2 separate regions of the Homo sapiens genome follow, and region 2 is linked to region 1. Evidence: fine-mapped expression QTL. A gene starts in region 1. The other region holds a variant in brackets. All regions are shown on one strand. Distances are between the middles of the regions. Region 1 holds the start of PALMD (palmdelphin). Region 2 has its middle 52 kb from the start of PALMD.

What was found. PIP is the estimated chance that this variant, and not a neighbour inherited with it, causes the effect.
Region 2: its variant is the best candidate, but not a certain one, in a credible set for the expression of PALMD in subcutaneous fat (TwinsUK, PIP 0.54).

The regions. Positions count from the first base shown.
Region 1 is chr1:99,643,946-99,649,331 of GRCh38, reverse strand. PALMD (palmdelphin) reads right to left here and starts at 3,219. Exons shown (of 8, transcript NM_017734.5): 1 at 2,970-3,219. The coding sequence starts at 3,014.
Region 2 is chr1:99,695,252-99,700,637 of GRCh38, reverse strand. It overlaps the pseudogene HMGB3P10. Among named protein-coding and RNA genes, the nearest start is that of PALMD, 52 kb to the right of the region's middle. The variant T/C (reference allele first, on the strand shown) is at 2,194.

The sequences.
Region 1 (5,386 bases):
ACTGACTTGAAAAGGGCCTCAAGAGACATTTTAAAGATCAAACATAATAGTTAATTAATTTTAAGCAGCCCTGTGTTTAAATTATAGTTGAAAACTGAACTTCTAGGCAAAGGGGTACTTTGACCATTAATTTAGTAAGGGAAGAGTTGGTGCATGGATAAAGTATTAAGGAAGAACATGAAAGTAATTGTGTAAAATAGAATCTATATTTGGTATACCCAAACTGAAGTATCTACCCTTGAACAATTGTTTCTGCATACTTTCATAATTTTGCTCTTATTCTCTTTAAATCTTTGAGAAGACATCTGACTAATCTAAAATTCAATTTACTGATCTGATATGAGAAATGAATGGCATCACGATAGTAATTTAGTTTTCAATTTGAGAGCCTAAGTGTCACATTTCAACTACTTAATGTGTTTAACCTTTTTTTTTTTTTTTTTGAGAAAAAGAAAAAGACTGGCACTTGGATCTTTGTTCTGTCAAATTCTAGGTATATACGTTTATTTTTTCAGTTCTTTGCAGTGAAAAATAATGACTTTTTAGGCACTTGAAACCAGGTAGAATAAATACAACTGTGAAGATTATTTTATTTTATAGCCAGCAATTGGAGAAACGAATTTTAATGTAAAAAGCAAATAGATCCTAGAGTGTAAAAGTTTTTTTTTTTTCCTCCAAAGTGAGGTCTATGTGTTGCTATGTCTGGGTGCATTGGGGAATTGCCTTCTGATTTCATTCTTGAAGTATACAAAAAATTATTTCAGTGTAGGTAAGTACTAGGAAAAAGCTAAAATGAGAAGATACTCTCTGAGTTTTAGTCTAGGTTGGAGATTCTGAGGCTTAAGCATTTCCAAAAATGAAATAATTCTTGCAAACTCTCTGCATACTCTGTGATTTTATTTTCCTAGGGGGAAAGAGACTAGCTGAGGTGGCTTCCTGGGCAAGGCAAGGGCGAGGGCGAGGAAAGCTGGCGTGTCCCAGGGCGTCCAAGAGGGAGGAGAGTGGATGTGTTGTTTCCATGGACACACCACTGCTCCACTTTTCCTCTAGGTGGTGACAAATGTGACTGGATTTAGCCTGGTGAGGTGTAGGCTGGTTTATGAGAAATTTGTTCCCATAAACTTTTTCCAGTTTTTTCCCTACAACCTTTATACAAGTATATTACTTCCAAGCTAGAATTACTTTGTGATCTTACTTGGGAGATTTGTTTAATCCTTTCTAATGGGATATATTTAGGCTGATGGAATAATCCAAAAATTTTTTTAATCATCAAAAAAGCATACATCTGCATATTCAGGAAGCTACTTACTCTCTTGATGGCTTTTAAGACATTATGAGGATTTTCTGTCTCTATTTGCGTTTGGAACCTTCAGTGACTAAGATTCCTAGCCTTAGAAATAACTGTATACAGCCATATCTTTGGAACATGTGTGGCTTTGGTAAGAGTTATAAGGTACACTGGAGGGAAAAAGGGCTTGAGCGAGGGTGTCCCCCAACTGAAAGAGGCAAATTCAGAACAAGGGTCTACTTGTCTATTTCAATTAGCTAATTAGGAGATATAAGCATTAGAAATAGTGGAGCCTGTGACCACACAACTCACGCAGTCTAATAAAGTAACCTTTAGACAACAGCTGTAATGTAAAAGGCCCATGCCAAAAACAACAGAGCAGAGCCGAGTTCCTGTCCCTTAAAGCAGGACAGCTGAGATGGTGGCTGAGTTTAATGACAAAAAAGGACAAAACAAAACAAACAATAATCCCGACCAAGGTTTTCTGAAGAGAGGAAAATGTAATAATTAGAAGCTAGACATTTAACAAAGCATTGTTTTATGGAAAAGTGCCAACCTTATCAATAGACTTCTGGTGTCTTACTATTGGCTAAGAAGACATTTCAATTTACTGAATGTTTCCTGGGTGAAACTAAGATATTGTATCAATTAGTAAAAAATCTAAATTAGGATTAGCATAATTAGTTATGCAATGAAAATTTTAAGAACAACAACAAAAAATCCCTGATCTAGCATCAGTTTTTAAAAAGTACTCATTTTTTTCCTATACCTAATGTCAGTGGCAGAAAATGCTGAGAAATTGGGATATTGCTTTCCAAAGATCTTTTTCTTCTTAAAACAATTACATCAAAAGTTATAGCTAGGGATAAATGATTGTGACACAGATTTCCAAGTTACTGCCAAATACAGGGTTTTATAAAATTAAAAAGAAAGCTGGATCATTTAAGAAAAGTAATTTATTTCTGGCTTTGACTTTTTCCCGGAACAAACATAAAAAATGTACGATTTTCCTTCTCGGTATTAACAAAATATTTTCCAAATCCACTGCATGCACTGCATTCCTTTATCAGGATCTTATTCAGTTTGTGACTCTGCTGGAAACTGATATCTTAGAATTAATCTGATACGTGCTTTTACCTAGTTTTCTCTTGTTTAATGCTTAAATTACGTATATTAACATTCATTTTAATTATTTTAGGCTTTCTGGAACATGCTACCACACTACAAATATAAAGTTTCAGGTCATTTTTAAAATTTCTTTTTCTCTCTTTAAAAAAAATTCTAACTTTTTGAGGCATTCATAGCTTAAAAAAGTTTCCAAGTTGGGGATCTGTTTTTTTATCTAATGCCAGTCAAATGGACATTTAAGGAAAAACTGCATTTCTAAGGTACACCACAGAGTGTGAAAGATAGTTAATCAGACTGCCTTAACAGCTTTTGATTGTTGTTTAAAATGCAGGCACAGCCTTTTTGAAAATCAAGAACGTTTGCCCTGCACTCAGGTTCTGAAGCCCCAGAGTTACAGAGGGTCATGAGGGTTAAGAGAGAAACAGAGACTCGTCCATGAAGGCTGACAGTTCTGTTTTTCCACTTGCGAGGGCTCAGCGACAGGGGCAGCCGGCCACGGTCTGCCTTCCTCTAAGTAACAACGTTAATGAGTTATAACTGTATGCAGACTTACTGTGATGGCCTGGAGTCTTCCCTTCACCAGCTCAGCTTCTTCCATTCTAGAAGTCAAGGACAGTCAGACGGGGAAGCAAGTCCAAAGCTACCATAAATCAAGGAGCCTCCTGGGGGAGAGGAGCGGGGGTGACAGAAGAGAAGCAGGGAGAAATCCGCTCTTTGCACCAGTGGAGAAATAGAGAAATTCCCGACTTGTCAGGAGCGTCTCCGAGCAGATGCACAGATCAGGCCAGACAGACACATGTAATGAGGGTGTGCTGGGGAGGCAGACGCTGAGGCTGCTGGCATGAGTTGACTGACAAGTTTGAACGGCAGCGGCACAAGCCCTTTTCCTTCAGGAGCTGCCAGCTCTTTGTTGTAATGTGCACAGTTAGCAAGGCACATTTTCTTATTAACTGTTCCTTACCCAATTCATTATTTTCCAGGAGTGGCACAGAGAGCCAACACACTGAGTGTTTAATCAGCCTCTGCTCTAGCAACACACAGCCATCCCCGGATGTGTTGGTCTGTGTGTGTTTGTACAAAGCTCGTTTACCTGCTTGCTAGCTCTAGGGGAGAGAGCCTTACCTTGACTGAGGCAGAAGTGCCAAGTCACTTGTTTGCCTTTCTTCCACTGATTGGATTTGATAATAATACAACAATCTATAGCTACTTTAAACTTCATGTAGTGGTAAATTTACATTGGTTCGTTCTCCCCCGTCTACACCCCACCCCCGACCCCCCTGCTCAGCACTTTGTTGCAAACTTTGGAATCTTTAGGTCATGGAGAAATCAAAGGTGTTAATGTGACTATATTAAGAAGTTGGCCCACCAAGGTATTTAGTGTGGCTTAAGCACCAAGTGCCACCTTTTGTTATTGCTTGACTTGGATTTCTATGGAATGCAGTTTTCTTTCTTGGACGCTGTTCAGAAATGACACTCTTGGCTTTCAGGAAGGTGCCCATTTTGACCTCACCGGTTACGCAAGAGAGAGGAGTGAGCCTTTGAAAATGTGATGAGACATTTGGTAACTGCCTGGAGCCCGGCACTGTGTGAATATTCGCCCATCCTTTAGAAAAAGGCAGGCAAGCCCAGTGAGACTCTTAGGTCAAAGCAGAGGCTGGGAAGCTGTACAATTGGCTCTGTCTGTTTTCTTTTCCCTACAGGTTCTTTAATTAAATTTTGCTGAAGTAAATCCTAATTACCAACTACCTTATTATTATGTGTTTGAATGCTATTAAGCGCTTTCATATCAACATTCAGCTGAAGAGGTTAAAAGGACAACCCAAACATTGAACATATGGTTTAATTTCCTTTGCAGTTTTGATATTAGTAATAATAATAGCTAATATTTGTTGCATTCTTTCTACAGGTAAATGCATACTTGCAAAGTGCTGAGAGATAAGTGCTATAATCCCTACTTTAAAAATGAGGGAACAGGCTCAGAGAGGTAATTTGCCATATAGCTAGTAAGTAGCAAAGCCAGGATTGGAACACCAGCTGCCTGACTTTATAAGTGGCATTCATCAAGGACTGCCCAAGGACACGGGGCAAGGAGAGGCACAGGCTGAAGGTTAAGTCAGTCTTTATGAGAAGTGGTTGGACCCCCAGCCTCCTTCTCTGTCTAGCTCCTAGAACACTACAGCTGGGTGTAACAGCCTAAGGCAGAACGGTGTGGGAATGTCCTCTGGAGAAACTTATTGGCCCTACTGAGGTTTCCCCACATTGTTGACTGGAGTTCCCCAACCACAGAGCCCTCATTCTGTCAGTCACTATAAGGTGAAACCCATGTTTTAAGAGTCTGAAATTATACTTGAGAGTAGTTTGTCCTTGCTCATACACCCTCAGAAGGGATACTTAGGGAGACCAGAGAATGGGAGGATTGTTTGGATGTGTGCCAAGTTTGATTACTGTTGGAAACATATTTAAGTGTAAAAAAAATCAAACCTTCAAGACTTCTGATTATGTTTATTTGTAGATCCTGGCTGAAATTAAAGACAAGAAAGCAGTAATGATAAATATCTCAGTCAGAATTGCATATTTGGTGCCTAGAACAAATGGGCAGTCATCCAATTATTAGTCTGGATCTTTTCCTAAAAACAATTTACCTCTCAAATCTCATTTCTGCTAGAGGAAAACCCAAGATTTTGCTAGTGTAGGGGAGGACAAGATTTAAAAAAAGAGGATGGGAATTTAGGAGGGAGCAGAGTTGCAACAACTGATTGGTATCATCATGTGAGTGGTAGGCAGAAAAGGCTGGAGCTGGGAAAATCTGGGGGACCTGAGTGGAATCCTGGAGCCAGAGCTCTGATGGTCTTGACAATCTCCCTTGGACTGCAATACAGATTAGGATGTTTCCACTCAACTTCGCCTCCCTTTCTCTTTCACCTGCCTCTTAGACATGTCCAGCTCCAGCCTTTTCTGCCTGTCCTCCCA
Region 2 (5,386 bases), 51 kb before region 1:
TATGGATGTTCCTCAAAAAAATTAAAAATAGAATTACCATATGATCCAGCAATTCCACTTCTGGATATATACCCAAAAGTATTGAAAGTGAGATCTCTATGAAATATTTGCACATCATGTTCATTGTAGCATTATTCACAATAGCCAAGAGGCAGAAGCGACTCAAATGCCCATGTATGGATGAAGAAAATGTGGTATAAACACATCGTAAAATATTATTCAGCCTTAAAAAATAAGGAAATTCTGTCACATGCAACGACAGGAGTGAACCTGGACAGCGTGAAGCTAAGTGAAATAAGCCATCACAAAAAGAAAAATACTGTATGGTTCCGCTTAGATGAGGTATTGAAAGTAGTCAAACTCATAGAAACAGAAAGTAGGATGGTGGTTGCCAGGGATGGGAAAGGAGAAATGGGGAGATGATGTTCAGTGGGTATAGAGTTTCAGTGTTGCAAGAGGAAAAAGTTCTAGGGCTCTGTTGCACAACAATGTTAATTTTCTTAGCACTACTGAATTGTACACATAAAAATGGTTAGGATGGTAAATTTTATCTTAATGTATTTGTACCACAATTAAAAATAAAAATTAAAAAATTGTATATGTAACTAAAAAACCTTCCCAGAAAGAAAACTCCAGGTCCAAATGTCTTCACTGATGAATTCCAGCAAACATTTAGGAAGAACTAATATTGAGAGTACACAAACTTTTTCGGAAAATAGAGCAGTAGGGAACATTACCCAACTAATATTATAAGGCTTGCATTACCCTGATACTAAAACCAGACAAAAGCATCACATGAAAAGGAAACTACAGACTATATTCCCCGTGACCATAAACTGAAAATCCATAATTTAAAAAAGTACTTAATGAAATATTAGCAAATTAAATTCTGCAACTTACACAAAGAGTAATACATCAAAGCCAAATGAGATTTATGCAAAGAATGCGCTGTTGGCATAACATCTGAAAAATTTGTCAATGAAATTCACCAGTTTAGACAAAAAAGGAGAAAACCCTTCTGATGATCTCAGTAAATGCAGAGAAAGCATTTGACAAAATTCAAAACACATTCATAGTAAAAACTTAGCAAACTAGGAGTGGAAGCTTCCTCAACGTAATAAATAGCATCCAGGAAAAACCTACAGCCAAAATTATATTCAATGGTGAAAGATAATACTTCCCCTCTGAAAAATCAGAACAAGGCAAAGAATGCCTGCTCTCTGCATTTATATGTAACATTGTACTGAAAGCCTTAGTGCAATAAAGCAATGAAATGAAATAAAAGTCATAAGATTAGGGAAGAAGTAAAGTTGTTTTTATTTGCAGACAACCTGATCATTAAGTAGAAAATCCTAAGGAATATATTAAAAAATGCTAAAATTAATTGAACTTATCAGAGGTGTAGGACACAAAGTCATTATAGAAAAGCATTTTTAAAATAGATGAACAGTTTTTTTAATTCATCCTCCTCCTTTACTTCCTCCTCGTCTTCTTCATCTTCCTCTTCCACTTGTTTTTGGGCAACTTTAGCAGGACCTTTTGCACCATCAAGCTTTCTAGACTTGTAGTCAGCAACATCCTTCTCATACTTCTCTTTCAGCTTTGCTGCCTTGGTGATTGATATGGTTTGGCTCTGTGACCCCAACTCAATCTCACCTGGAATTGTAATCCTGATAATCCCCACGTGTCAAGGGTGGGACCAGGTGGAGGTAATTGGATCATGGGGGCGGTTGCTGTTCTTGTGATAGTGAGTTCTCATGAGATCTGATGGTTTTACAGGTGTCTGGCATTTCCCCTTTTGGCACTCACTCCATCTTGCCACCCTGTGAAGAAGGTGCTTGTTTTTCCTTGCCTTCTGCCATGATTGTAAGTTTCCTGAGGCCTCCCCAGCAATGCGGAACTGTGAGTCAATTAAACCTCCTTCCTTTATAAATTACCCCATCTCAGGTTTTTCTTCATAGCAGCATGAGACTGGACTAATGCAGTAAGGTAAGGCTCCTTTTCACTGTCATTTAAGTTATTCCACATCTCATCCAGCTTTTTTGCCACATCTTCAATAGAGATGTCAGGCTTTGTGAATTTGATCTTGGGCAGAATTCTGAACAGAACAGGAGGAATCCAGATGGTGGTCTTTTGTGGGCATTAAGATCCTTCTTCTTGCCTCCCTTAGCTGGTATGTAATCCTTCATTTCC[T/C]GATCATAGCATAATTTATCCGCCTTTGCCATTTCATCAAATTTAGACTTCTCTTTCCCAGACATGGTCTTCCACCTCTCAGAGCACTTCTTGGAAAATTCTGCAAAATTGACAGGGACCACTGGGTTTTTCTTCTTAGGTTCTCTGCGCATCTGCACAAAGAAGGCATAAGTAGATATCTTGCCCTTTGGTTTCTTGGGGTCATGGATCAGCAAACAATATTAGAATGAAAATTCTCTCCAAATTGATCTATAAATTTAATTCCAATCAAAAGCCTAGCAGCCTCATTTGAAGGGGTTTACAGACTGATTCTAAAATTCACATGGGAAGACAAAGAACCTTAAATGGTCAAGACAATATTTAAAAAGACAAAGTAGCAATGAGCATGCCTAGTGCCCAGATTTTGTTTTCTGTATCATTCTCCAATAAAAGCAACAGAAACTCTTGGATAAGTTGCTGATTCCAGAACTGGGGTAAGAAATACATAGGATGAGACTGGGTCATCTTGTAGTGCCAGAAAGTAAGGAAAAAACAAAGCAAAATCACTTACAGGGATATGTCAAAGGGGCACAGGAGCCTACTGAATGAGCTTTCAACAGCCAAAGCTGGACCAACTTGAGCAGCAAGTTGTGTTGGATTATAACCCATGGTTTGTACCCTGGTACAAAATACATACTCAGCAATTTTCAGAACTGTCAAGGTCATCCAAATACGAGGAAAGTCTGAAAAAGAGTCACAGCCAAGCAGAGCAAAAGGAGACATGACAACTAAAAGTACCATGGTTTTCTTTTTGGGATTTTGGAACAGAAAAAGGACATTAGCTAAAGACTAAGGGAATCTGAATAAAGTTTGAGACTTTAGTTAATAATATTGTATCACTACTGGATTGTTAATTGTAACAGATGTACAATGCTAATGTAAGAAGTTAAAATAGGAAAATCTGGGTACAGGGTATGTGGTAATTTTGTGCTGTCTTCTCAATTTTTCTGTTAATCTAAAACTGTTTTTAAAGTGTATTAAAAAAACAAGATAAGATTGGAGGACCTAACCCGACTCGATTCCAATATTTATTATAAAACTACAATATTAACCAGTATAAATAAAGTGTGCAGTATTCATGAGAGATATGCAGATGAATGGAATAGAGCAGAGACTCCATATGTAGGATCTCACTTCTAGGACCAACTAATTAACAGACGGGTCCAGGTAATTCAATGTGAAAAATAATAGTGTTTCAACAAATAGAGCTGGACCAACTGAATGTCTCTGGGAAAAAAATACCCTGAACTATTATTTCACTTACCCTTCCCCAAACTTTTCCTTTACTTACTTCTACTCCACTTAACTTGAAATGCCCCATTGACCTAAAATGAGCACTAAACATACAAAACACCAAGATATGAAATGATAAGGGTATATGGTGTCTACCTTCATGTGTGACACCTCAGCCAGACTTGATGATGGGCAGGACACCTGGTTCTTTTAATTCGCTGACAAATTGAGTCCTCACATGACTGTGTTAGACAGGTGACATGTACCTCATTTTATAGATAAGGATACAGGCTCAGGTAAGTTGTTTGTTGCCCAGGGTTATACAGCTAGTGTGGCAGACACTGTTGGTGCCTGTGTCATTTCCCCATGGTCCATTTTTGCAGCACCATAGCTGCAGTGGACAGTTCCAAGTGAGTTCAGACTTACCATCCTTCTAGAGGCATGTTCCGTGCTTCTTTCTTCTTTTCACTCTGGGCACTAAGGCAACCTGTGTGACTCTCATGCAAGTGCAATCCAGAAGTGTGGGGGAATTTATGCTCCCTCATTCAATGAGGGACCTGAGCTGGTGGATAAATGCCCTAAAGTTCTCTCCTTCAGACAGACAATGTTAGCTGCTTTCTGTACACTCTTTTTGAGATTATAGTAAAATTCAGTCTCTGGTGCCTAAAGCATTGACTTCTATTACATACCATTATATTTACCATTCTTTCCTGTGCTTTTCTTCCTACTCCTGGGATCACTTCTCAAACTACTGTACCCAAGTCCTAATTTCAGGCTGTACTTCTTGTTGGAACCAAGAGTGGCTCTACAGAGCAGATGCTCTGAATGGGACTCTGGAACTGGACAGTCCACTCACTGGTCAGAGGGCAATGAGGACTGTGTGATAAGTTAATGGTAACAACCTTTGGCTGTCTGTACTATTATAGTTACTAAGAAGCTGAGACTGGGTAATCTTGTAATGCCAGAAAGTAAGGAAGTAACTAAGCAAAATCACTTATATGGATAAGTCAAAGGGGCACAGGAGCCAACTGAATGAGCTTTTAATAGCCAAACCTGGACCAATATGAGCAGCAAATTGTGTTCAGTTATAACCCATGGTTTGTACTCAGGTACAAAATACCTGCTAAGTAGGTCTCGATTGCTGGAAAGGCTGTAGTTACATAGCAGAAGGTGAACAGAAGGCAGTACCTTGTCTCTGTACTATTATAGTTACTAAGACTCTCCCTTATACTGGATTGAGATGAGGTACAGGTAAAAAGGGAAGAGGTAGGTTATAAAGTAGCTCTGCACTTGACTAGTATGGGGCAAAATATTATCATGTACTGACATGTGCTGTGAAGTTGGCTGCTTTTTGATAATTGCCTTAGAATCTTTGAAGAAAAAGAATTAGGCTCAGACCAGCCAACTATTTCGGGGCATTCCAGAAAGCCAGGCAGGCATCATGGCAATGTTTAAAGAGAACTATGTCTGCTGTAGACAGAAGGCAAACTGTGTGAAAATAAAACCCATGCTTCAATCCTAAGGGTGGCAGGGCAACAAAGGAACGTGCAGGTTTGAGAGGTCACTTATGCTAAACTTAGAGCCATGAAAGGGAAGGAGTCCCTGGACCTGGAATAGGGATATTTGTTGAAAGTAATTTACTTCAAAAATTTGAACCTCCAGGTTTCCCAGAACATTTCAGGCCACCAGAAGTAGCTCTCTCCCGCTAGAGAACAGCTGCCCCTTGCAAAACCACTCAGCTGGAATGGAGGCTTTGCAGGTTAATGCATGTCCTCCTCAGAATCATCTGCTTCTCTGACCTCTCATTACCTTCAGACCAATAATTAAGATAAAGTCTGATCATACATAGTCCCAGCAGGGAAATTCAGTTTCTGTCCTGGGAGGAAACAGACTCTCATGGAAAGACTTGGATGAGCTGGAT